Linked DNA regions of Homo sapiens. The protein of the gene in region 7 purifies or fractionates together with the protein of the main gene of each other region. This does not show direct contact. Each region holds a gene or a part of one and is shown on either strand. Other genes may lie near its edges. The genes, in order: HACD2, TRAM1, ANO10, TP53I11, VEZT, SERINC1 and SLC35E3.

What was found.
Region 1: the proteins of SLC35E3 (region 7) and HACD2 purify together in Homo sapiens (affinity purification with mass spectrometry; one large-scale study listed by BioGRID and IntAct). This does not show direct contact.
Region 2: the proteins of SLC35E3 (region 7) and TRAM1 purify together in Homo sapiens (affinity purification with mass spectrometry; one large-scale study listed by BioGRID and IntAct). This does not show direct contact.
Region 3: the proteins of SLC35E3 (region 7) and ANO10 purify together in Homo sapiens (affinity purification with mass spectrometry; one large-scale study listed by BioGRID and IntAct). This does not show direct contact.
Region 4: the proteins of SLC35E3 (region 7) and TP53I11 purify together in Homo sapiens (affinity purification with mass spectrometry; one large-scale study listed by BioGRID and IntAct). This does not show direct contact.
Region 5: the proteins of SLC35E3 (region 7) and VEZT purify together in Homo sapiens (affinity purification with mass spectrometry; one large-scale study listed by BioGRID and IntAct). This does not show direct contact.
Region 6: the proteins of SLC35E3 (region 7) and SERINC1 purify together in Homo sapiens (affinity purification with mass spectrometry; one large-scale study listed by BioGRID and IntAct). This does not show direct contact.

The regions. Positions count from the first base shown.
Region 1 is NC_000003.12:123,582,254-123,586,199, forward strand, and holds the start of HACD2 (very-long-chain (3R)-3-hydroxyacyl-CoA dehydratase 2), read right to left. Parts: upstream 2,801-3,946; 5' UTR 2,775-2,800; coding exon 2,620-2,774; intron 2,365-2,619; exon of another isoform or gene 2,149-2,364; intron 77-2,148; coding exon 1-76. UniProt on the Homo sapiens protein: Catalyzes the third of the very long-chain fatty acids (VLCFA) elongation four-step cycle (condensation, reduction, dehydration, and reduction).
Region 2 is NC_000008.11:70,575,068-70,577,416, forward strand, and holds part of TRAM1 (translocating chain-associated membrane protein 1), read right to left. Parts: intron 1-2,349. UniProt on the Homo sapiens protein: Involved in the translocation of nascent protein chains into or through the endoplasmic reticulum (ER) membrane by facilitating the proper chain positioning at the SEC61 channel.
Region 3 is NC_000003.12:43,619,212-43,623,456, forward strand, and holds the start of ANO10 (anoctamin-10), read right to left. Parts: upstream 2,801-4,245; 5' UTR 2,698-2,800; exon of another isoform or gene 2,562-2,697; intron 1-2,561. UniProt on the Homo sapiens protein: Does not exhibit calcium-activated chloride channel (CaCC) activity. Can inhibit the activity of ANO1.
Region 4 is NC_000011.10:44,948,084-44,952,303, reverse strand, and holds the start of TP53I11 (tumor protein p53-inducible protein 11), read left to right. Parts: upstream 1-1,420; 5' UTR 1,421-1,627; intron 1,628-2,143; exon of another isoform or gene 2,144-2,331; intron 2,332-4,220.
Region 5 is NC_000012.12:95,224,307-95,227,806, reverse strand, and holds part of VEZT (vezatin), read right to left. Parts: intron 1-3,500. UniProt on the Homo sapiens protein: Plays a pivotal role in the establishment of adherens junctions and their maintenance in adult life.
Region 6 is NC_000006.12:122,447,808-122,451,307, forward strand, and holds part of SERINC1 (serine incorporator 1), read right to left. Parts: intron 1-3,500.
Region 7 is NC_000012.12:68,749,176-68,752,675, reverse strand, and holds part of SLC35E3 (solute carrier family 35 member E3), read right to left. Parts: intron 645-3,500; coding exon 486-644; intron 1-485. UniProt on the Homo sapiens protein: Putative transporter.

The DNA.
Region 1 (3,946 bases), on a different chromosome or scaffold from region 7:
AATTGAATAATAAAGGCTATGGTAGCTACCCTTAGCCAGGTATGCTCGGACCAGACCAACCGCTATAACCAGCCACCTAGTAAAAGAGAAAACAGCAATCAGGAAAAAATAAAAATAAAAAAAGTAGCATTTAGGTTAACACACAGCTGTGGCAATAAAAGATATTGCTAAAGGTGACCTCAAGCATGAGTAACCTGGATTTATGGACGATAGCTCTCAAATGCCAAGCTGTAATGCACTGAAATGTTGCAACACCGACAGCACCTTACCAAGAGGGCTCAGTGAAAGCATAGTGGCACCTCACCCATCTGGAGCTCATTTTTTTGGCAACTTTGCTATTGAGATCAAGGCCAAAAGGAAAGGAATAAGCTAAAATGGTCCTTGTGCCACTAAATCAGGTGCCAAGAAAATCTAAGACGAGAAAAAAACAGTTAAAGGAAAATTTTAAACAGCCTGTGCAGTTAAAGGGTTTTTAATAATTACAGGGTGGAAAGAAGATGCTTTAAACTATTGTTATAATTGTCTCACTGGAACAATTACCCATACCTTAAAATCTATCCTTTTAAAATTACGAATAAAGGGCTCTTGCTAAAAAAAAAAAGTTTTTTAGCCAAATTTCCTAAAATCAATGCAGAAATGAAAGCCAGATCAATACAAACCACGAAACAGGAAAGCACTTAAGCATACAGCTGTGAATGTTATATTTTTGTTCCACTGTCCTTCTCAAAAATAAACACAATGTTTTGTTAAGTTCCATAATAAAACAAATGGACCTTTTTATTAAGGTATGTCTCCTGGAAGGATTTAGATAAATGTATAGTATCAACTAGGCAATGGGGTGTGTGTGGTCTATGCTATTTCCAAAAACTATCACATAAGGACATCAAGTAAGAGTTTGTAAAAGAAGAAATTATTTAATGGTGTAACTGGTACAACCATTAACAGCCTTAAAAAAAAAGCTTACTTTGCTCTCACAATCCCAATTTATCTTCCTGGTTTAAGATACCACTCCTTACCCTCCACCCCATTCTCTATGTTCATTGCTCAGGAATAGACTTCTTTCTTCTTACCAATGTACCTCAAAATCCCTCTCCAGTCCAATGCCCTCACCGGCTCTTGCTAAGACAACAAGAATTTTATATATAAATATTAATACACACAGTGAGATTCCTGGATGTTTTTTTAAAAATCAATCTATGTGACCACTGATGTGATATAAAGCTTGTATCTGTACTAGTTCTTCATTGACCTGTGAGTCAAGAGAAATGATTTCTAGATCTGGAACTTCTACTAACAAGTTCTATGATCTCATGCAAGTCACAACTTCTCTGAGCCTAGGTTCCAACACCTACCATTTCTAATACTAGCAATACATATATGATCCTCCCACGATATATTTTCTTCTTCGTGAAAAAAAAGCAAGGTGCTGAACTGTAAAAATATTAATATATTGGCATTTGTCTTATTTTAAAAAGGGATAGGGGGATGTATAAACATATTTGCTTGCATCAGCATCTTAAGGATACACAAAATTAACTGCCTCGAGGGAGGGGAGCTGGGTAGAAGGGAAAGGTGGGAGGAAAGATTTTCACTGTATTCCCTCATGTTTTTCATTTTTAACCCTAACAATGTATCACCTACTTTAAATAAAAATGGATGTTCACTATACAATTCTTTCAACTCTTCTGTATGTTTGAAATTTTTCATAATAAAATGTTAGGACTTCTTAAAAAATTACAAATGAAGATAACTTAAAAATATATAACTGTCTGATGCTGTGATCCTCCTCACCAAAATGACAAGATAAAGAATTGCAGAGCTGAAGGAACCTTCATCACCCAGACCAACCCTTTAGTTTTACAAATGAAAAAACGGAGGCTAGAGAAATAAGATGATTTATCCAAAGTCACACAGCTAGTTAGTGGCAGAGCTTGAACTAAAAACCCGCCGGGATAAGGGATGCACTGAAATGAAAGAGACAGAAGATGGGTAAAACCGTTTCGAGGGTCCATTCTCCCCCTTTCCAGTAACTCTGCCTTCTACTCCCCAGTTTCTTCCCCACCCCAACCCATCCTAAAAGTCTAAACTCATCTAAAGCCTAGCTCTGCTCATGTCGCTGGCCAAAAACTTTGAACGCTTTCCCAATACCTTTCAGATTAAAGCGCAGCCCAGATTTTGAAAACAGCCGCCCAAATGAATGGTCACTCTGCAGCCACAGCTCCTCCACTCCCCATGCTGGCGCCGTTCAACATCCGAATCTGGCCGCCCAGGACGGGCTCCGCGCCGCAGGTAGTCCGGCCGCTGCCCCCGGCCCCGCACCTGTGGCCAGCCCCACCTTTCCTCCCGCGGCCCTCGCGAGCCAGCGCCCGGCAGCCGTCCCCGCGCCCCAGTGCCTGGGAACTTGGCTCGACCCCCAGCGCAGGAGGGAGCTCGCGGGCAGCCACCGGGGCCGATTCAGCGCTCGGCCGCCCTCAGCGCCCAGGTACCGGGTCCCGGGCACCCCCCGCCGGGAATGCACTGCCTGCGGCGGGCCGCGCCGATCCTATCCGCCCCGCCGCTGGCCGCAGGGCTCCCTCCCCGGCCGCGCTGGCTCCCCGCCTCCCCGAGCCCCAGCCTCACCCGGCTGTCATCACCACATTGTAGATGACCAGGTACGCCGTGGCCAGGGGCCCCGGGCCCTTCTTCTTCCGCGTGCCGCTGGCGTCCCCGGCCCCGGCCCTGCCACCGCCGCCCCCATTCCCCTTCGCTGCTGCAGTCGCCGCCACTGCCGCCATGTCAAGTGCCCGAAGCCCGCTCTCCTAGCGCGAGCGGCTCGGGCCGGACTACGCGAGGAGAGGGGGCGGAGGAAGGGACGAGGGGCAGGCGGGGCCAGGGCCGCGGGGCGGAGCCGGGACAGGGTCCACGGCAGCCGCCATCTTGGCTGAGGGCAAAGACGCTCCTGGCGCTCCCGTCTTTCGGCTTGCCTCAGTTGCCACTGCCATCTTGGATCAGGGTAATTCCCGCCTCTTGGGCGCTCCCGGTTACAACCTCGGCGCCATCTTGGATTAGTTCAATGTAGCCACCCTCTCCAGGCCCGCTGCTTCTGCCAGCTGGATGTTGCGTCGTCCCTCGCTATTCGCCCTCCTATAATCACTGCTTCCATGTTGAATCAAAACAATTATGCTTTCGTTCTCCCTTCTTCAATTGCCCTATCTTCACACCTGAACACTATTGCTCCGGTATCCTGCCATTTTGGATCAGGGCGGTTGACGGTGGATTCACTTCCCATCAGCCCTTGAGGCTGCAGGGACCAGCCCTTTGGTAGGTGCGCTTTGCTTCCTAACCCGTTGCCGGGTTGGAGATTCCACCTCCGAAGTTTTCTTTCTGACTTTTGATTTTACATTCCTAGTACAGTGGAGAAGCCCAGGCGGCCTAGAATCCAGTGTCGTCCGTGAGTGCTTGGCTGGTGTTCAAGTGCATCTTCCAGCCTGAGACCGCGTGGACTCGCTCATCGTGAGGGCGAGAGGAGGATAAGCCCATTGGGCTGTCGGCTGAGAGTGAGGTGCGGGGTAAGGGAGTAGATTTATAGCTATAGTGACTAAAAATAAAAGGATGTTGGCTTAGGTGGAAAACCTCTCTGCTTTGGGAAGCTGGAGCAGCTTGTGGGCATTGCTTCAACCAGCTGATCCCACTTTCCATTCATTGCTTTGTTTCAGGAGGTTCTTTATTTGTAAACGTCCCCTGCAATTTTTTACACACCCAAGCAGCTCCTTAAATGTATTACTGTATATGTGGTAGTATAAAATATTTATGGGTTCATTCCAGCAAGTGTTTATGGAGCGTCCACAAAGTTGCCCTGGAGTTCATGGCACTAAGTGAAAGAGACAAAGTCGTCAGTCTCCCAGGGATTATATAGAGCAGCGGCCCCCAACCTTTTGGTCAACAGGGACCGGTTTCGTGGTGGGGG
Region 2 (2,349 bases), on a different chromosome or scaffold from region 7:
TATGTAAAGATACCTTCAGAAAAGAAAATGTAAAATCCAATTCACTCAGGTGAAATTTACTTACCAGTATTTAACCAATCACAAAACCTGGTAACATTTTTAACACAATGAACTGAAAGTAGCAAATTAAAAGAAAACTACTATTAAAAGCAGAAAAAAGTGACAGCACAGAAAACTATAAAGTCACAAGAATTTAAAAATAGTATTCAAGAGAAATACCTTCTGTAGAAATAAAGAAACTTTTCACATTTGACAGCGAAGTCCTTGGGGATATTTGTTTACAATATAGTAAAGTTGGTGTTTAGGATAATTTCTATGTGGAGGCGTGTATTATGGCCTTCTTTTTATTTATTTATGTTACTGTTGTTTTTTGAGACAGGGTCTCACTCTGTCACCAAGGCTGTGTAGTGGCACGATCATGGCTCAATGCAGTCTTGAACTCCCGGGGACCAGTGATGCTCCCGGGGACCTCAGCCTCCCAAATAGCTGGGACTACAGGCATGTGCCACCACACCTGGCTAATAGTAATGGCCTTCTTCAAGCTATGATGGAGTAGCGTATGTGTGACTGACTCTCTCTCCAAAAATACAAAAGTTGCATACAGAAATGGATGTTTGAGGCGGGGGCAATGGCTTGCACCTATAATCACAGCACAAGTGGAATCCCAGCACAGATATCATTGAACTGAATAATAATGAAAAAGACATATTGAAACCTGTGAAATACAGACTAAGCATGGTGGCTCACGCCTGTAATCCCAGCACTTTGGGAGGCTGAGGTGGGTGGATCACCTGAGGCCAGGAGTTCAAGACCAGCCTGGCCAACGTGGTGAAATGCCATCTCTACTAAAAATACAAAAATTAGCTGGTTGTGGTGGTGGGTGCCTGTAATCCTGACTACCTGGGAGGCAGGAGAATCACTTGAGCCCGGGAGGCAAAGGTTGCAGTGAGCTGAGATCGCGCCACTGCACTCCAGCGTGGGCAACAGAGCTAGACTCCATCTAAAAAAAAAAGAAAAAAAAAAAAAAACCACACAAAAAAAAACCCCAAAACAAAACAAAAAATCCTTGTGAAATACAGTTAAAGCAGTGTTGAAAGGAAAAGTTTACCATTAACTGAATGTAATTCACAAGAGATACAAATCAATGCTCCAAAGATCCATCTCAAGAAGGTAAATCACAAACAAAACCGCAAATTAAACCCAATGAAAAGGAAAGAATAGAAATCAATGATCCAGAAAAGAGACAACTAGGAAAATCAACACAAAAAGACAAATGTTGGTTTTGACTGATGGAAGGAAAGATAAAAGGCTTACGTTACTAACAACATGAAATGAAAAACAGGAATCACTCCTGATTTAGAGGTGTTAACAGGATAACGAAAGTCATATGAATAATTTTATGCCGATGTATTTGCAAATTTATATGAACTAGACAAATTCCTTGAAAAACATTATTTACCAAAAGAGAAACGACTAAGAAACAGAAAATGTGAACAATAGTATTATCTTTTTTTTCTTCTGAGACAGGGTCTCACTCTGTTATCCCGGCTGGAGTCCAGTGACATGATCTCCACTCACTGCAACCTCCACTTCTCAGTGATGGCAGCGGCAGCCCCTGTGGAGTGGCTACTGCCATGACATTGGCTGTAGTGTGAGAGGTGCATCCAGGGCTGTGTGCTCCACATAGCTAGCAGGAGCCCCATCCCTTTCAAAGTTGGAGTGGTGGGAGTCCCGCACTCCTGGGCACAGTGGCAGCCACCCAGCTGTAGTTCTTCGGTGTTCAGGAAGCCCTACTACCTCTGCAGGCTTGGAAGTGCCTGCTCCCACTGCCTGGCCACTCTGCTGCTCCTGGCGTCTGCTAGTTTTGGAGTGAAGGTGAGACTGACCCTGGGATTAGAGCAGCACTGATATGCCTGCTCAGGGAGCCCCTAGATCTGGGGGCTTTTCTCTCTTTCTTGTCATCCACAACGTGGCGAGCAGGGGGACATATTTCAGCCTTGTTTGTGCTATAGCCCTTTTAGTCCCGCCATTCAGCAGGTCCAAAGTTCCCAAGGCAGCTCCCTGCTCCCTTGGCCCTGTCAGGACTTTGGGTGCTGATGAGCACGAGAGGGAGGCCGAGGGGGGCTGAGGGCAGCTTGGTGTGGGTCTGTAGGCACCCCTTGGCATGACCAGCCTAGGCACCACGGATGGCAGGTTGATGGCAGCAGGAGGCAGACAGGTTCCTGGGCAGAAAGGGGTGGGCCCTGGTGAAGCCCCCCTCTTCAAGCCAGGGACAGCCTGAAACCTGGGGGCCAGGCCACCAGTTCCATGGACTGGAGTGAGAACTTACAGTGTTTTCTGGGCCCACCC
Region 3 (4,245 bases), on a different chromosome or scaffold from region 7:
TTCTAGCAGGCCTGCTTCACTTTACAGGTCTGCACCAGGTCATCCTGTTTAGGAGGATGCTCAGGTTAAAAGAGGCTAAGGACATATGACGACTAAATACAGTGTAGGATCTCAGACTGGATCCTAAATATTAGTGGGACAATTAGTGAAATTTGAATAAGGTCTGTAGATTACACTAATAGAATTGTATCAATGTCAATTTTCTGGTTTCAACAATTGCACCATCGTCATCTAAGATGTTCACATCTGGGGAAGCTAGGTGAAGGGCATAAGGAAATTTGTACTATTTTTGCAACTTTTTGTAAATCTAAAATTATTTCAAAACAAGAAACTTTTTAAAAAGAGCCTCTTCCAGGGGCTGGGCACAGTAGCTGAGGCTTGTAATCCCAGCACTTTGGGAGTCCATGGGGGGTGGATCTATTGAGCTCAGGAGTTCAAGACCAGCCTGGGCAACATGGCGAAACCCTGTCTCTACAATAAATACAAAAAAAAAGAAAAAAAAAATTAGCTGGATACGGTGAAGCTCTCGCCTGTAGTCCCAGCTACCCAGGAGGCTGAGATGGGAGGATCACCTGACCCCAGAGGTCAAGGCTGCAGTGAGCTGTGACTGCACCACTGCACGCACTGCAGTTTGGGCAACAGAGTGAGACCTTGTCCAAAAAAAAAAAAAAAAAAAATCCTCTTCCACCCAAAATTCCGTAATTTCCTAACACATACACACAAAAACTCATACACATTAAAAATAACAGTTTTGGATTCACACATGACATGAGATTTATTGTGAGCTTTTAACCATTAAAACAAAGGTTTACTGCTTATAAAAACAGAAGGCTAGAGACAATTTAACTGACAGATGAGAAAAAGGCTTAGTACAGCTCTCATGCAAGCCATGACAAATATATCCATTTGAGGAACACTGATTTTTCACCTCCAAGCACAGTACTAGGCACATAACTAAAACTCTAATATTTAAAAAAAGAATGAATCCACATGATGAATGATTATACAAGCATTTTCAAAGATGTTTAAGAAGAATTTGATCCACAAAAATGCTAAGTGAGAAAATGTAAGGTGGAAAGAAAAAGCAAAAGTATGAAGTAATATAACAATATTACCCCAATTAGGTAACAATACTACCCTAATTTTGTGTACATTCATATACACAAAAATACAAAAATTAGGAAGAAATGCATCAAAATGTTATTACATGTGGCAAAACTACAGATTTTAATTTTCATCCTTATAATTTTCTCTGTCTTCCAAGTTGTCTACAATGAAAAAAGTTGGCCAGCACAGTGGCTCACGTCTGTAATCCCAGCACTTTGGGAGGCCGAGGTGGGAGGATTACCTGAGGTCAGGAGTTCAAGACCAGCCTGGCCAACATGGTGGAACCCCATCTCTACTAAAAACACAAAAATTAGCCGGGCATGGTGGCAGGCGCCTATAATCCCAGCTACTCGGGAGAATCGCTTGAACCCGAGAGGCGGAGGTTGCAGTGAGCAGACATTGTGCCACTGCACTCCAGCCTGAGCGACAGAGCAAGACTCCGTCTCAAAAAAAACAAAAAGAAAAAAGTTTCAGTGGGTTTAAGTGCATTTACACACTTCAATTTATCAAGACTTTTCTATGCCCTTCCATTATTTTAGATCTTTCAAATTTCATTCATCTGCAACTCTACGATTCTTTCAGCAACAGCTGTTCAGAACAGATGATTTACTTTCCATAGCGAATTTTAAACTGTTTATCATGCAGAATGGGCCCTTAGAAAACATCTAGTCCTCTAGATTTGTATGACTTTAAATTAAAAGTAGACACTACAAAGTGGATTTAACCGCTTTAAACCCCACAGGATTAGATTTAAACTCCGCAGGATTTAAGGCAATATGATACAACTGTGTCTTGAGTCTGAATAAACCTCAGCTGCACTTTTTAAGTCTGGGATCTCCATACACCGTCCTGCTGGAATATAAGGTTTTACAGAAGGCAGCGCACACCAATGCTGGTGCTGTGAAGGCACCCACAAAATCAGACGCTGCCTATAGGGGAGAACCCCATTCCATCCACGTTTCTCAGGTGTCCCAGGCACTAGCCAGACAGGTATCTATTATTTAAACTGTACAGTATGTCCCAGTCAAAAGCCTGGAAACTCAGTCACCTCGATGTGAGCATTATCCTGCAAGCCCGCTCCGGCCAAACCTGCTTGGAGACAGCCTAGTCCGCCCTGATCCCCGGACTGCCCGGGAAGCAAGAACCCCGGGACCCGCGAGCTGACCCTTCTAAAAACCACCCTTCACTCCGCTCCGCCGACCACCCCACTCACTGCCTCCTTCCCCAAAGCGCTGAGGCCCCCAACATCCTCCATCCTGACTTCACCAGCCCCAAATTTCCGCCTCACCGCCTTTCTCTCAGGACTCAAACCCTCGCCCCAGACCCATAATCCCCTCCACAAACCTCTCCCCTCCCCTGCGACCGCCGCTCCCCGCAACACCTTCACTCGTCCCTGCCCCCACAGCCCCCGCGCCCATCCTGGTCCCACTTCCCATCCCCAGGGGTGCTGGCACCGGGAGGCGGCCCGGGAACGCAGGGCGGCGACCAGGCGGAGCTCCTGGAGCCTGCAGCGGCCGGGGCTCTGTGGCTGCAAGGGGCCGGGCTCTGCTGCGGACAGCTGGGGGGTCCGAGGTGCCCTCCCCGACTCACCAGCCGCCGCAGCGCTCCACGTCTTCGGAGGCGGGTCCGAGAGCCGGCGAGAACCGGAGGCCGGGCGAAAGAGTGCTCGGTGCGGGGGGCGGGCCAGGCCAGTGGGGCGGGCGCCGCCGAGCGCTGGGCGTGGCGGACGCGGCGGGGCCTAGATGCGGTCACACGCAGGGGGGCGGGGCCGCGGCGGGAGAGGCGGGGCCTCACTGGGCGGTAGCTCCGGGAGGGGCGGAACTGCGGTGGGAGGGGCGGGGCCTCACTGGGCGATCGTAGTGGACGAGAACCTAGACTGGAACCGGTCCGAAGAAAAAAAGGCAGCCCTCATTGGGCTGTCGCCTGGAACAGGAGACCAGGCCGGGAGAAAGGGAGGGGCGTGCCTAACGTACTGTACCACCCATCGAAATCCGGACGGCAGCGGGAGAGGCGCGGCCGAGAAGGCAGAGGCCTGGTTGGGCTGTCACTCCGAGCCGGGGCGGCATGTGGCTGGGCTCTCCAACCGCGAGCGGTCGGGGCAGGGGAAAGGAATACGCCCCTTCACATTTCCCTCTTCCATCTCTTAAAGACCAGAACCTAATTTTCTGGTCACTTTCAGGTATAAGAACAAGTCTCATTTTAACTGTAGCTCACTTTCAAGTTGTGAAAAACGCAGATCCTTTTATAATTAAAACCTAACATCCAACCACAGCCAAATCCCAAAACCCTTGCTCCTCCTAGAAATCGCCAGACACCTTTCCACCTCCAGGCTCAGAGTCTGCCCCAGCCATTCCTTCTGCCCAGAAAGCTCTTCCCTCGGTTGGCTGCTTGGCTCACTTCCTCACCTCCCTCAGTGTTTGCTGGGCTCTCACTTTCTCCCTGAGGCCCTTTCTGACCATCCTACTTAATACCTGTTCTCATCTGCTCCTCACCCCACCATTTCCTTACCTGCTCTCCTATTTCTTCTGTCCACCACACTTTTTGACTTTTTGTTGTTGTTGTTTTGAGATAGAGCCTCGCAATGTCACCCAGGCTGGAGTGCAGTGGCGCAGTCTCGGCTCACTGCAACCTCCGCCTCCCGGGTTCAAGCGATTCTCCTGCCTCAGCCTCCTGAGTAGCTGGGATTACAGGCGCGCACCATCATGCCCAGCTAATTTTTGTATTTTTTGTAGAGACAGGGTTTCACTATGTTGGCCAGGCTGGTCTAGAACTCCTGACCTCAGGTGATCCGCCTGCCTCGGTTTCCCAAAGTGCTGGGATTACAGGCGTGAGCCACCGCGCCCTGCCGGCTTTAAGTGTTTTTAGTTACCCAGGGTCTACCACAGTCTGAAAATAGGTGAGGCCAGAACAATAAGATATTTGGAGAGAGAGAGAGAGACCATATTCACCTTTTATTACAGTCTATTTTTATAATTGTTCTATTTTATTATTATTCATTGTTGTTAATCCCTTACTGTACCTAATTTATAAATGAAACTTTATCATAGTATGTATGTATGTGTAGGAAAAAACATAGTATACATAGAGTTTTATACTATCCTCAGTTTCAAGCATCCACTGTGGATCTTGGAATGTATC
Region 4 (4,220 bases), on a different chromosome or scaffold from region 7:
ACAGTGGGAGCCTGCATGGCACAGAGTCCATGCACAGTAAACATGAGCAGCTCCTATTAACTCTAAATCTCTACAGCAACCATAGCCGGTTCTTACTATTGGTTGCTCTAGGTGACTTACTTTGTCCAAGGCCACACAGGCACTAAAAGGCAGAGTCAGGATTTGAACCTAGGTGATCTGGTTCCAGAGCCTGCTCTATTAACCGTTAAGGAACTGGTGCAGACAGAACCGAGACCTGGAGTCAGAATGCCCACCTAGCTAGATGCCTGAGGCAGCCACTCACCTCTTTCTGTCTTATTTACTTGTGAAATGGAGCATGTCATCAGCCTTGCCTTCCTTTTCCCGCAGCCCCCCACCCCGGTTCCTGGCCCACTGTGACCATCAGATCAGATGAAAGAGATCCAGGCATTTCTCTAAGGAGAGCACAGGGTGGTGGGGGTTGGGGTGGGAGAGAGCACATTATTTTCCCACCATAAGGGGTTGAAGGAGCCCAGAATTTGGGGGTGGGGCCTTGTCTGTAGGAGCCTGGTTCTCTCAGGTTGACACGCCACCAGAGAGCCTCCATGACCCCCAACCCTCATCCTCACCCCAGCCCCCCATAGGATGTGTAGAGACAAAAGGTTTGACAACTGTAGCGCCAACAAGCGTCCTAGAGCCCCAGATAAGATCCTAGCCTCCTGACAGCGCAACTGACAGCAGCATCTCTGAGGCTGGATTTTAGGGTGGAGTATGAAGAAGGTGGCCGTAGTGACAGTGGGGTCATGTTATTTGGCCAAGTCACACCAAGCAGGGAGAGAGAAGGGTGGGCCTAGGCTGGAAGCCTGAAGGCTGAGTGAACTCAAACTTTAACGACCATGGCCTGTAAAATGGGACTAAGCACAGCGCCCTTATGGGTTGCTGTGAAAATCAAATGAGTTAATACTTGTAACTCCTTTAGCATATGGTGTCTGGCATCAGAGAGTGCGCAGCAAACGGTGACTATTGTCGTGACTGTGTTATTACACACTTGGGTATCACCGCCAGCCAAAGCAGTCCCTTCCATTTCAGGCACCGGCCTGGGCCCGGGAGACACCGCAAGGCTATTTAAGATGGTGTGGTTTGCCCATCTACGTTGATCGTCCCAAGAAAGGGGCACCGTCTGCAGAACTTGCCAGGAAAGTCATCCTGGGCGGCGCGGGCCACGCCAGGGTCTCCCCGCGCGGCTTCCTCCCCCGGCGCCTTCTCTCGGGCGCGCGTGCGCCCCCTGCAGGCGGCCCCCGGGAGAGCCTCGCGGGGGAGCCGGGAGCCTGGTTTCCCCGCCAACCCCCATCCCGCCCGCCCCGGCGGCCACCCTGGGGGCGAGGCAGCCCGGCGCGTGGGAGGGGACGGCGCGCCATTGGCTTGTGCGCGGAACCGAGAGGAGGGACCAGCGCGGGCCGCCAGACTCGGTAAGCCCCGGCCGCGCAGGGCGCCGCGCGCAGTCCAGCCGGCCCGGCCCTGCCCTGCCCTGCCCTGTCCTGCCCTGCCCTGCCCTGCCCTGCCCTGCACTGCCCGGCCCGGCACGGGCGGCGCGATGTGAGGCGTCCGAGCCCGGAGCCTCCGCCTGGCATCAGCTCCACGTAGCCCAGCGCCGGCACGCGCGAGGCCCGTAAGTTCTGCTCCCCGCCGCCGCTTCCGAGCCGCGGACTTTCCCCTCCCGCCGCCCGCCGCCTGCGCAGCGCAACCCAGCGGGGCTCCTGCGGCCGACGGGACCGCAGAGGGGCGGCCGGGACCCCGCGCGCGCTAACCGGGCGCCCCGGGACATCTCGGCACCCGCTGAGCCCGCTGGGACCCCAGGGGGTCGCCTCCCCAGCTCCCCAAGGCGCCGTCCCGCAGCCCCTTCCGTCTCCCCTGCGCGCTCTCCCCTCGCCGCCCCTCCCTCTGACTCGGTTTCCCCTCTCCCCCGGCTCCGCGGTCGCCCTCCTCCTGGACTGCTTATTTCGTCCTCGGCCACTGCCTCTCGGGCTCGAGCTTTCTGCTTCAGAGCAGGAGAGAAACGGAGCGAAAGCAGTTTCTGTCTCCCCGGGGTCTGACTCGGTCCCCCGCGCTCGGTTCTCTGTCCCCTCCCCCTCCCGCCATTGTTCCCGGCAGGAGGAGTGCGCGGCGCAAACTTGCGAGTTCCCCCAGTCTTTGCCCCCGCAGGGCCGCGGACGGAGGTGGTGGCGGAGTTCCCGCTGCCCACAAGTCTGGCCCGACCTTCTGGGGTGGGGGCCTGGGGGCAGGGGCCCTGGGCCGGAGAACCCGGGGCCGCCTAACGGCTCGGAGCTCACCGCCGGGGGACACCGGCGCTGAGGCCTGGGTCTCAGAAAGTGGGTGAGTGTCTGGAGCGGGGACATCAGGGACAGATTGCAGGGGGAGGGGCGAGGCTGAGAGAGTCCCCCGTCCCCAGGCTGGAAAGGGGCGGGCAGAAACCCAGGCCGCGCCTTAGCCCAGTTAGGGGGTGGGTAGGGGACGCACAGGTGGAGACGCCCCCCACTCTCCCCAAAGTCGCGCGATCTGCAGGAAGGGTACAGTGTGGGGCCACTGGCCGGGCGCTGGGTGGGTTAGGGCCCCTGCCGTGGGCAGAACACTCGCACCTACCCGGGGGAGGCTGTGTGGAGGAAGGGCCAGAACGCCGCGCCCACCCCGGCGCGCCCCGCTGGGCGGGGCGGGGCGGGGCGCTCGCCTTGGGTCCCCTCGCTCTACCTTCCTTCGCCCTGACCCAGTCTCGGGCTTCCGCCTCTTCCTGGAGCCCGGGGGGAGTGGGTTTCTCCGCCGGAGAGATGGAGGCTGGGGCAAGAGCAGCGCGGAGGCCAAGAACCCCCAGGCTCCTCCAAAGCCCAGAGCGGCTGGCCAAGGCCCCCTCACCGCCCCACTACCCTGCACTTCCTGATTGGTTTCTTTCAAACAAACTTCTTGACGGGGCGGGCCTGCGGGGAGAAGTCACCGGGGCTGCCCACCCCAACTATGTGGTCCCTTGGACCTCCACCCCTGACGGCCTGTGGAGAGGGGACCAGGATCTGCGGCCCGCAGATCCCAGGGACGCGGGGGTCGTTTTGTTGCAGAGCCAGGAGGGGGCACTGTCCGCTCCTTAGCCTCAGCCCCAGACTTCGAGAAAGGAGAGAAAAGATTTTTCTTGTTGGGTTGTTAGGAAATAAGACTATTCTCCAGGCTTCTGTTGTCCCATCTGTAAAATGGGTCGTCTTGTTCCTGAGGCCCCCTCTGTCCCCACCATCCCAGGAGGCCCCTGCCATGGCCGCTTCTTTCCCAGTCACATGTCGTCAACTTCCTCCGTGCTTCCAAATTTGGAGTGGAGGGCTAAGGCCGAAAGCCCCTTCACCCATGTCCAGCTGTCATGACCTGCCAGTTCTAGGACTGCGACCTATTTTCTGCACAGCTCTGCCTCCAGGCCCCTTGTGGCTTCTCCAGCTCACACCCAGCCTCCCAATTTCTTTTGATAGCCCCACCTCTGTGGGAAGAAGGGCCTGCCCCTCTTGGGGTATGGGGGAGGAGGGGGCTGGATTTAACAGGAATGCCCCATAGTCACACAGTTTGGGGCTGTTCTTTACTTTTGCTTATTGAACAAAATGTTTGTGAGCATTACACCAAAAATGGCTTATGGAGCAAAGTGCCAGGGACAGTTTCAGGCACTGGGGAGACAGCTGTGGACAAAATAAAAATTTTTGTCCTCATGGAGCTGATGCTTAAAAGCAGGGGGCAGGGGGAGGCAATTCCCTAATAAAAACAATAAGCAAATTATATAGTGTACTGAGAGGTGAAGGGGAAAAGTTGTGTTGGGGGTATTGAGGCCAGGGACCGGGTTGTCATTTTAAATAGGGTGTCAGGGAGGTCTCCCTGAGGAGGTAACTTTTGAGCTACAGCCTTGAGGGAGATGAGGGAGTGAGCTGTGTAGACAGCTAGAGCACAGCCCATGCAAAGGCCCTGAGGCTGGAATGTGCCTACCCTGCAGCTAGCAGGGAGTGAGGGGCTGAGGAAGAGTGAGTGACTGAGAAGGGATGAATTCCTCCCCTTTCACAGGTGAGGGAAGTGAGGCTCAGAGACAGTATGTCAGTCACCCCAGGACACACAGGCCAGGAGAGGCAGCTGCAGGGCGGGGTGCCTGATGTTCTGACTCCTGGTCCACGATACCTCCCCGGCACCCTGTGTCTCACTGTTTATCCTGCTACACTGGCTGGACCCCTCCCAGGGCCAGCGCAGCATCG
Region 5 (3,500 bases), about 26 Mb from region 7:
TAGCAAGGTTTAAGACAGATGACCTGAAGTTTCTGCAATTAAAATTTAAGGCCCGGTGCAGTCGTTCATGTCTGTAATCCCAGCACTTTGGGAGGCCGAGGCAGAACAATCACTTGAACCTGGGCAACATGTCAAAACCCACTCTCTGCAAAAAATACAAAAAATTGGCCGGGCATGGTGGCTCATGCCTATAATCCCAGCACTTTGGGAAGCCGAGGCGGATGGATCACCTGAGGTCAGGAGTTCGAGACAAGCCTGGCCAACATGGCGAAACCCCATCTCTACTAAAAATACAAAAATTAGCAGGGTGTGGTGGCATGCACCTGTAATCCCAGCTACTTGGGAGGCTGAGGCAGGAGAATCGCTTGAACCCGGGAGGTGGAGGTTGCAGTGACCCGAGATCACGCCATTGCACTCCAGCCTGGGCGACAAGAGCAAAACAAAATTCCATCTCAAAAAAAAAAAAAAAAAAGAAAAAATTAGTAGGGCATGATGGCACATGCCTGTAGTCCCAGCTACTTGGGAGGCTGAGATGAGATAATCACCTGAGCCTGGGAAGTGGAGGCTGCAGTGAACAGTGATTGTTCTATTGGAGGCCAGCCTGGTGACAGAGTGAGACCCTGTCTAAAAAACAGTTAAGAAAGCAACATCAGAACTTTAATACCTTTCTAAAGTAATTGGAGAATTCTTACTCTCAAAACACTGTAATTAATGATGACGATAACAGAGTAAAACAACAATCTTGGTATTTCATGCTTATTTTGTTAATATTCACATTAGACATAGTATCCATCATTTTCTAAACTTTGTTCTGTTGCTGTTTAGCCTGAGAGGTCCAAGACTGAGGTTATACTGTCCTTCTCAATTCAGCCTCTTAGAGTAGAATGATGGTAGAAGATTCTAATTAAAACAAATGATCTTATAGGAGGAGGAGTCAGGCTCCAATATAATGGAATTAACATTGAAAGTACATACGGAATCTAGCTCTGATAAAATGGGTAATCAGATTCTAGGGCAAGAAATGGGAATTGGGCCTGGGCACTTCACTCTTTCTTTCCTCCCTTAGTCCTTCTCTTATATTATCATCTTTCAGTGCACATCTAGTCCTCTCAGACTAAGAGGACTCAAAGTGATCACTGGAAGGAGAAATACAAATGACCCAAAATATAGTACAGTAAAATTTACAAATAATCCAAGAAACAGAAATTAAAACAAGATACCTCAAAGAGTTTGTTTTAAGGGAAGGGATGTTGTTGGAATATTATCCAAAACTCTGCATGATTTAAGTTTTTAACTTTCATGCAGCATGTAATTCTCTAGGTAAGTCTCAATACATGAATGACTCTGATTTCTATCTGAAGATCATTAAAATAACAGTATTACAACAAATATACCAAAAAAAAAAAAATCACAGTTAAATTTTCTTAGGGGAAGAGAGGTTCAGCCCTAAGATAGATATGGTAAATTGGCTTGGCTTGTTCAATCTCTATTCTATAATCCTTCTTCCAATGTATCTCTTGTGTTACAGAGGCAGGAAAGCTACATCTGAAATTTCCCAAATTATCTTGCAGCTAGGATTCTAGATATAAATCAGGGTTTCCCCAAGTAGGTGTATGGTGTAAGAGATTTGGAAGGTGGAAGAAGAGCAGAAGTCCACTTTTTGCTTCTTTGGCTTTTGTTTCAACTGTTCTTTTTTTTTTTTTTTTTTAAATAAAGGCAAAGTCTCAATCTGTCACCAAGGCAGAGTGCAGTGGCCTCATCAAAGCTCATCACAGCCTTGAACTCCTGGGTTTAAGCAATCCTCCTGCGTCAGCCTCCTGAGTAGCTAGGGCTAGAGATGCATGCCACCATGCCCAGCTAATTCTTTAAAATAATTTTTTGTAGAAACAAGGTCTCTCTATATTGCCCAAGCTGGTCTCAAACTGCTGGCCTCAAGTGATCCCCCCACTGCTGGCCTTGTTCTTTCATTTGTCTGTTCTCTCATTCCTTCTCTTCCCTCCATCCTTCTCTCTCTTTTTTTTTTTTTTTTTTTTTTTTTTTTTTTTGCTATGAAACAAAGCTGTGGAGGCAAAATGTTTCTATAGCAGTATTCCAATATGGATTCTCCAGCTTCTTGATAACACAGCTGCAGGTGTGGTAGAGACAGTGGAGAGACTCCAAGTTCCAATACCAAGGTATCACTTTGTTAGGTTATTGAGAGGCAGATGTGGTGATGGCTTTTGTTTTGTTTTGTTTTGTTTTGTTTTGTTTGAGACAGAGTCTTGCTCTATCGCCCACGCTGGAGTGCAGTGGCGCGATCTTGGCTCACTGCAAGCTCAGCCTCCTGGGTTTACGCCATTCTCCTGCCTCAGCCTCCCGAGTAGCTGGGACTACAGGCGCCCGCCACCAAGCCCGGCTAATTTCTTTTTGTATTTTTACTAGAGATGGGGTTTCACAGCATTAGCCAGGAAGGTCTCAATCTCCTGACCTGGTGATCCGCCCGCCTCGGACTCCCAAAGTGGTGATGGCTTCTAATTCCTGGATTGTAACTATGATCATGATCACGTGCTCTTGTCTTCATGAGCATATAGCAACTTTGATAGAGCTTGATCCTGTAGGCCTTCCGATGATAATCTAACCATTAATTCCCTATGTTAAATTCCTTTCTGCTTATGGCACATAGACAGGTTCCTGTTTACTGCATTAACAGGGGTCCTCAACCCCCAGGCCTGCACAGCACTGGTACCGGTCCATGGCCTGTTAGGAATACAGCCCGAGGCCAGCAGGATGGTGGGCCAGTGGGTGAGCAAGCGTTACTATCAGAGCTCCGCCTCCTGTCAGATCAGTGGCAGCATTAGATTCTCATAGGAGCAGGAACCCTATTGTGAAATGTGCATGTGAGAGATCTAGGTTGTGAGCTCCTTATGAGAATCTAACTAATGCCTGATGATCTCAGGTGGAACAGTTTCATCCTGAAACCATCCTCCATCTGGAAAAACTGTCTTCCACGAAACAAGTCCCTGGTGCCAAAAACCAGTCACTGTGCATTAGGATGTATGGGTGACACAGTACTTAGTATCTAGAAGTAGGGCTGACTCAGCAGAACCTGAAATATGTTCCACTGGCTGAGTAATCAAGTGGTAGATGGCAAGAAAACATGCCTTACAAGCTTTCAGCTCTTCAAAAGAAGGCCTTTCTCAGTCAGTGGCCTGAGATCTAAGTTGAATGAAAGTGGTAATAGGGGTAGAGGGGGTTACAGGTCTCATAGGTGGTAAAGCCCAAACACAGGAAATAAGATGGCTGCTCCTAGCCTTTCCCAAGAAGAATCCCGTGATAAGAGTTACAGGTTAGCTGGACATGGTGGCACCTGCCTGTAGTCCCAGCTACTTGAGAGGCTGAAGTGGTAGGATCACCTGAGCCAGGAGTTGGAGGCTGCAGTGAGTTATGATGGTTAACACTGCATTCCAGCCTAGGCAACAGTGCAAGACCCTGTCAAAAAAAAAAAAAAAGTTGTGGCTTTA
Region 6 (3,500 bases), on a different chromosome or scaffold from region 7:
CTTATTCTTTTATAAAGAAGAAAGTAGGCAAGGTGCGGTGGCTCATGCCTGTAATCCCAGCACTTTGGGAGGCCGAGGCGGGCGGATCACAAGGTCAAGAGATAGAGATCATCCTGGCCAACATGGTGAAACCGCTTCTCTACTAAAAATACAAAAATCAGCTGGGCGTGGTGGCATGTGCCTGTAGTCCCAGCTACTCGGGAGGCTGAGGCAGAAAGACTCGAACCCGGGAGGCGGTTGCAGTGAGCCGAGATCATGCCACTGCATTCCAGCCTAACGACAGAGCGAGACTCTGTCTCAAAAAAAAAAAAAAAAAGTAGGATTGCTAAAATATTCACTAAAGTGTCTAAAATACATATTTTTCTCCTGCAAAGCCAGATCTGTCAAACTCCATCTTACTAATGAAAATGATTCTTACCTTAAAGCCAATTAGGTAAGGCTATTTCCTTCTCTAAAGCAAACTACTAATAATTTTTTTCTAACCACCTACCTGGAAAAAAACAGGAAATCTTTGTGTAATACATCAAAACAAAAAAACAAAAAATAAATTGGTCTCCAAGTTATAAAGTACCTATGATAAAATACCTACAGTTTGTAAACTCAATGAGATTCATATAACATCAGATAAATTTTTTAGGAAAAGAGATCATTTTCTTCTTTTTAATAGGTAATAATTTTTGTCTATTCTAATTTGTCTCCTTTCAACATATGTTTCTATTCTCATGGTATGCAATATAACTAGCCTATAATAAGATGCATTACAAAGCCCAATTATCAAATTCAATTGTAAGGTAGTCACAGGCTAAAAGAGTAATTTAATAATGTGAAAAAATTATACTGTTCACAATTGAATCAACAGGAATTTGAAGAGTTTTTCTTTCTATATACGACAATTATATGCTCTATGCAAATCAGATACCTTTCTTATAATTTCACCCAGTTTCTTACATAGACATACCTTGTTTTACTGTGCTTTGCCTATTTTTTTTTTTTTTTTTTTTTAGCATTTTACAGATACTGTTCTTTTTACAAATTGAAGGTTTGTGGCAACCCTGCATTAAACAAGTCTATTGGTTCCATTTTTTCTAACAGTATGTACTCACTTTGTTTCACATTTTGGTAATTCTTGTAATATTTCACAATTTGTCATTATTATTAATTACATCTGTTATGGTGATCTCTCATCAGTGACCTATTATGTTACTATTGTAATTTCTTTCGGGCACCACAAATCACACCCATATAAGATGGTGAAATAATCGACAAACATTGTGTGTGTTCTGACTGCTCCACCAACCAGCCATTTCCTTGTCTCTATCCCTCTCCTTGGGCCTATTTCAAGACACAACCATATGGAAATTAGGCCAGTTAATAACCCTGCAATGGCCTCTAACTGTTCAAGTAAAAGAGTCCCCTTTCTCACTTAAATCAAAAGCTAGAAATGATTAAGCTTAGTTAAGAAAGCATGCCAAAAGCTGAGACAGGTCAAAAGCTAGGCCTTCTGTTCCAGTTAGCTGAGTTGCGAATGCAAAGAAAAGAAAAAGTTCTTGAAGGATATTAAAAGTGCCACTCCAGTGAACACAAACACACAAATGATAGATAAGAAAGCAAAGCAGTCTTATTGCTGATATGGAGGAGAAAGTTTTAGTGACCTGGATAGAAGATCAAACCAGCAGAGCATTCCCTTAAGCCAAAGCCTAATCCAGAGCAAGGCCCTCTCTCTCACTTCAAGTCTATTAAGATTGAGAGAGAGAAGGAAGCTGTAGAAGAAAAGTTTGAAACTAGATGGGGTTGGTTGTTGAGGTTTAATGAAAGAAACTGTCTCCGTAACATAAAAGTATAAGGTGAACCAGTAAGTGCTGATGCAGAAGCTACAGCAAGTCATCCTAAAAATCTAGCCAACAAAATTAATGAAAGTAGCTACACTGGTCAGGCATGGTTGCTCACGCCTGTAAGTTCAGCACTTTGGGAGGCTGAGGCGGGTGGATCACCTGAGGTCAGGAGTTCGAGAACAGCCTGGCTAACATGGTGAAACCCAATCTCTACTAAAAATACAAAATTAGCTGGGTGTGGTGGCGCAGGCCTGTAATCCCAGCTATTCAGGAGGCTGAGGCAGGAGAATGGCTTACCAAGGAGACAGAAGTTGCAGTGAACGGGGATTGTGCCATTGCACTCCAGCCTGTGCAACAAGAGTGAAACTCCATCTCAAAAAAATAAAAATAAGAAAAAAGAAAGCAGCCAAACCAAACAACAGATTTTCAATAAAGACAACATAGACTTCTATTGTAAGAAGATATAATCTAGGACTTTCATAGCTATAGAGAAGTCAGTCAATGCCTGGCTTCAAAGCTTAAAAGGACAGGCTGATTCTCTTGTTAGGGACTAATGCAGACAATGATTTTAAGAGAAAGCCAATGTTCTTTACCATTCCAAAAATCCTAGGGCCCTTAAGAATTATATTAAGTCTATTCAGCCTCTCTATGAATAGAAAAAAGCCTAGATGACAGCACATCTGTTGAAAGTATGGGTTACGGAATATTTTAAGCCCATTGTTGGGACTTACTGCTAAAAGATCCTTTCAAAATATTACTACTCAATGACGATGCACCTGGGTCACCCAAAAGCTCTGATAGAGATGTACAGGGAGATTAATATTTTCATGTCTGCTAACACAGTATTTATTCTGCAGCCCATGGAAAAAGGAGTAATTTCAACGTTTAAATCTTATTATTTAAGAAATATATTTTGTAAGGCTATAGCTGCCATAGAGTAATTCCTCTGATAGATCTGGGTGGACAAAGTAAACTGAAAACCTTCTGGAAAAGATTCACCATTCTAGATGCTATTAAGAACATTCATGATTCATGGGAAAAAATGTCAAAATATCAACATTAACAGGAGTTTGAAAGAAGTTGATTCTAACCCTCATAGATGACTGAGGATTTCAAGACTTTAGTGGAGGAAGTAGCTACAGATACGGTGGAAAGAGCAAGAGAACTAAAAAGTGGAACCTGAAGATGTGACTGAATTGCTGCAATTTCATTATCAAGCCTGAATGATGAGGTGTTGCTTCTTATGGATGAACAAAGTAGTTTTTTGAGATGGAATTTACTCCTGATGAAGATGCTATGAATATTATTGAAATGACAGCAAAGGAGTTAGAATATTACATAAACTTACTTAATGAACCAGGAGCAGGTTTAAGAGGATTGACTCCAATTTGGAAGGAAATTCTACTCTGGGTCAAATGCTATCAAACAGCATCATATGCTACAGAGAAATATTTTGTGAAAGGAGGAGTCAATCAATGGGCAAACTTCATTGTGGTCTTAGTTTAAAGATACTAAAACAGCCATGCCAACCTGCAGCAACCAACACCCTGTTCGGTCAGCAGCCGTCAACATTGAGGCAAGACCTCCTACCAGCAAAAAGATTACAACTTGATGAAGGCTCAGATGACTGTTAGCATTTTTTGGAAATAAAGTACTTTCAAATTAAGG
Region 7 (3,500 bases):
TGGTCTAAAACTCCTGGGCTCAAACGATCTGCCCAGCTCATCCTCCCAAAGTGCTGGGATTACAGGAGTGAGCCACTGTGCCTGGCCCCTTCACTTTCTTTATATTTTTACGTATGTTCAAAATCGAAATAGTGATTATAAAGCTATGTTTTCATTGTAAAAAAATTTAACTTAATCTAAATGTCCAAATTATTTGTGGGCTCTAGCTTGACATGGTCAGAACAGTAACCAGGCATCGGAAGACATTAATTGTAGTTCTGCTTTTGCCACTGAGTAGCTGCCTCACTCTAGGCAAGTCCCTTCACCTTTGTGTACCTCAATTTCTTCATCTGAAAAAGAATCCTTACCTTACCTCCTTTTATGGTGATTATGACGATAAATGTGAGAATGGATCGGACATAGTGCTCTGAAAACTAAAAATTACATTAATAATGGAGGAGTTATTATTATACTGTTTCTTAGATATCAAAACAATTAGAACTTACCAAAGCAGAAACTGACCAGGGACCAAATATTCCTCCTTCTCCAAACACTGGCTCAAAGAAGGGCACAGCAACCAGCAACATGGCAGATGACATCGGAGCCTGGTAGTACAGCAGCTGCATTGAGTTCACTTGTAATTCATGCTGTTTGGCTCCTACCCACTGAAAATTAGGAGATAAAACATGTCTGGCACAAAAGAAATAGTATCACATAATCAAAGATGCGACAACTAGAGTCACAAAGATGGGAATGTGGGGTATAGACTAGGGGAAGATAAAATGTCTAATTATTCTACAAGATTTCAAAGACCAGTAAGCTATATGAATGCCCTTTAAGCACCATGGATGAAAATAGCTCTATAAATTTAATTTCTGATAATCTAGCTTCTTCTCAATTCTTAGAAGGAGGAGAAAAGTCCTCTATTTCCTTCTACCTGATCCTAGTAAATAGGGAAAAATAAATGCATATAAGGGCCTACAAGGATAAAAGATCTTGGGAAAATAAGGGAGAAATAGAAATTCAGGTGATTAGGAATACAGATGCAGTGTTGGACTTCATTTCTTTCTAAAAATGGCAAAATTTAAAAAATGGAAGACCGGGGCCAGGAGCAGTGGCTGACACCTGTAATCCCAGTACTTTGGGAGGCCAAGGCAGGCAGATAACCTGAGGTCAGGAGTCCGAGACCAGCCTGGCCAACATGGTGAAACCCTATCTCTACTAAAAATACAATTAGCTGGGCGTGGTGGCGGGCGCCTGTGGTCCCAGCTACTCGGGACGCTGAGCAGGAGAATCGCTTGAACCAAGGAGGCGGAGGTTGCAGTGAGCTGAGATCGCGCCACTGCACTCCAGCCTCAGTGATAGAGTGAGACTCTGTCTAAAAAAAAAAAAAAACAAAGACAGAGGTTGGGGGGACACGATGACAATGGGGCATGGGGGCAGGTTAGAGATGGTTGCCAATGTGTGTGGCTTGAAAAGGTATGTGGTCTCGTCAGTTGCTTTGGAAAACCCAATCAATGGTAGAAGAGATTTTCCTCTCTCTGGATGACTTTTCTGTGGATACTATTCCTCATCCCCCACCAATACACCTAGATACACTGGATAATCACTAACCCTAAAATACCATACCATTCAGTAGAAACAACATCTCAAGACCTCAAATCCCATTCGTCCACAAAATACTTCACAAATATAACTGAAAAAAAGGCTTTGAAGAAGATTTAACAGGACTGTTTGGATCAGATCTGGCAAGAACAGCTAGGCTTTTGAATGACTTCTACATACTTCTTGTTCCTGTAGGTCTGGGTATCTTGTTACATAAACTCTAAGTCTATAGAAATCCATCAAGACAAAAATAGAAGAGCAGGGAATTTGAACCATACTCCTGCCAGCTTTAACTAAGAGTCCTCTGTGAATATGAAGGACAAAGAACTGATTCTTCTGCTGCCTGCTCCTTGGGGCACAGCAGCAAGCAAAAACGGATACAGAGGGTGTGTGCTCACCTGCCTTTCCTTTTGCAGCCTCTTCAGGCAGCCGCGTGTCTTCGCCACAGGACTGCCTGGAACAGCAGGGGCTCTCAGGCCTCCACTGTCCCTCAATGCAGCACAGCCTGGCTCCTGCCACCACCCCTCTAATGCTCTCCTAAGGGCACTATGATCTCCATGGACATGTCCAGACTCCCTGTGGCCCTTCCTGCGAGCCCTCTTTGCAGAACCTGCAAGTTTTGCTTGGAAGAACTACCCTCTGGTTTGTACTCCTCCCTCACTGCCTCCTGCACTTAACAGTTTTTAAGGCAGATGCCTGCCTTCCTCTTTCATCGCCCTGACTGATGTCTTTTACTATTTGCTGAGATCTACTGCTCTTCCCTCATCGCTTGAGCATCCTTAACCTTATATTGGCCAGTCTCCTGGCCATCTCTACTTATATAATCTGCAGGAACTTGTTTAAAATCAACTGGTGCCTTTTTTCTACAAATGGGCTCCTCTTGTGTGTTTCCAATAATTGATGATATAATCTCCCTCAGGGATCAGAGCCTTACTTTCCTCTCTCTCACATTCAGTCAGGTTCTCCTATGTTCCCCAAAACGCCCCTGGAGTGCCTTTTAACCTTTCCCTGTCCATTCCCACCGCCCTAGCCCAGGCCCTTCCTGCCTGTCCTGTGAAGTACAGGTAGGTTCCTGACTGCTCTGCCTTTTACCCTTCCTTCCCTCTTACCCACCCTTCATTGCCATCAGTTACTTTTCTAAAGACAGGGGAATGATCAAGTCAGTCCCTGTCTGAACTCCTCTCCTGGTGCGTGCTCAATAAAGATATACTTCCTTAGCATGGCTTCACGACCCTGACATCTGGTATCACCCACTCCTCAGCCTTGTCTTCTCACAATGCACCTACTGCCTAGCCTCACCAAACAAATCAAGTTCTCCAAAAATGCTCCAGACTTTCACACACACTGCAAGGAAAAGACCAGCTGTCCTTCCCTGCTGAGCTCATTTCTGTGTGCCCTTCAATTTAAATTGTTAACTTTTCCGTAAAGTCTTACCTCACCGCCCCTCTTTAAGAGCTGCCACTTCCTCCTTGGTGTTCCTCAGAATTTTCCTCCTACCTTGGGGTACATATGCTACTGTGACCAGCTGTCTCTTTGTGTTTCTACACTGCTGGACTGTAGCTGCTTTTCATCTTTGTATCCTCAAGGGTGAACATAATGCAGAAAAGATGTCTGCTGAACGAATGAATGAGTCAACCATCTTTCTACAACTCAAGCTAATAGCTGGTCACTTGTCTTTTAACTCCTTTTAATGTCTCCAGCAGTATAAGAGAAACAACATAGAAATTATCCCAAGATACTGTGGGCAGATACAACTTTCTTTAAGAGGAATGTTTTGGGAATATACCTATTTTGTAATGGTACCTTTACCACTTACTGATAAGAAACTGTCCATTAATCTACAATCATTCCTTGGTCAATCTCATGTCAAATATCTACCTTAGGGATATAGAATCCTTTGATTCTAATCTATAGCA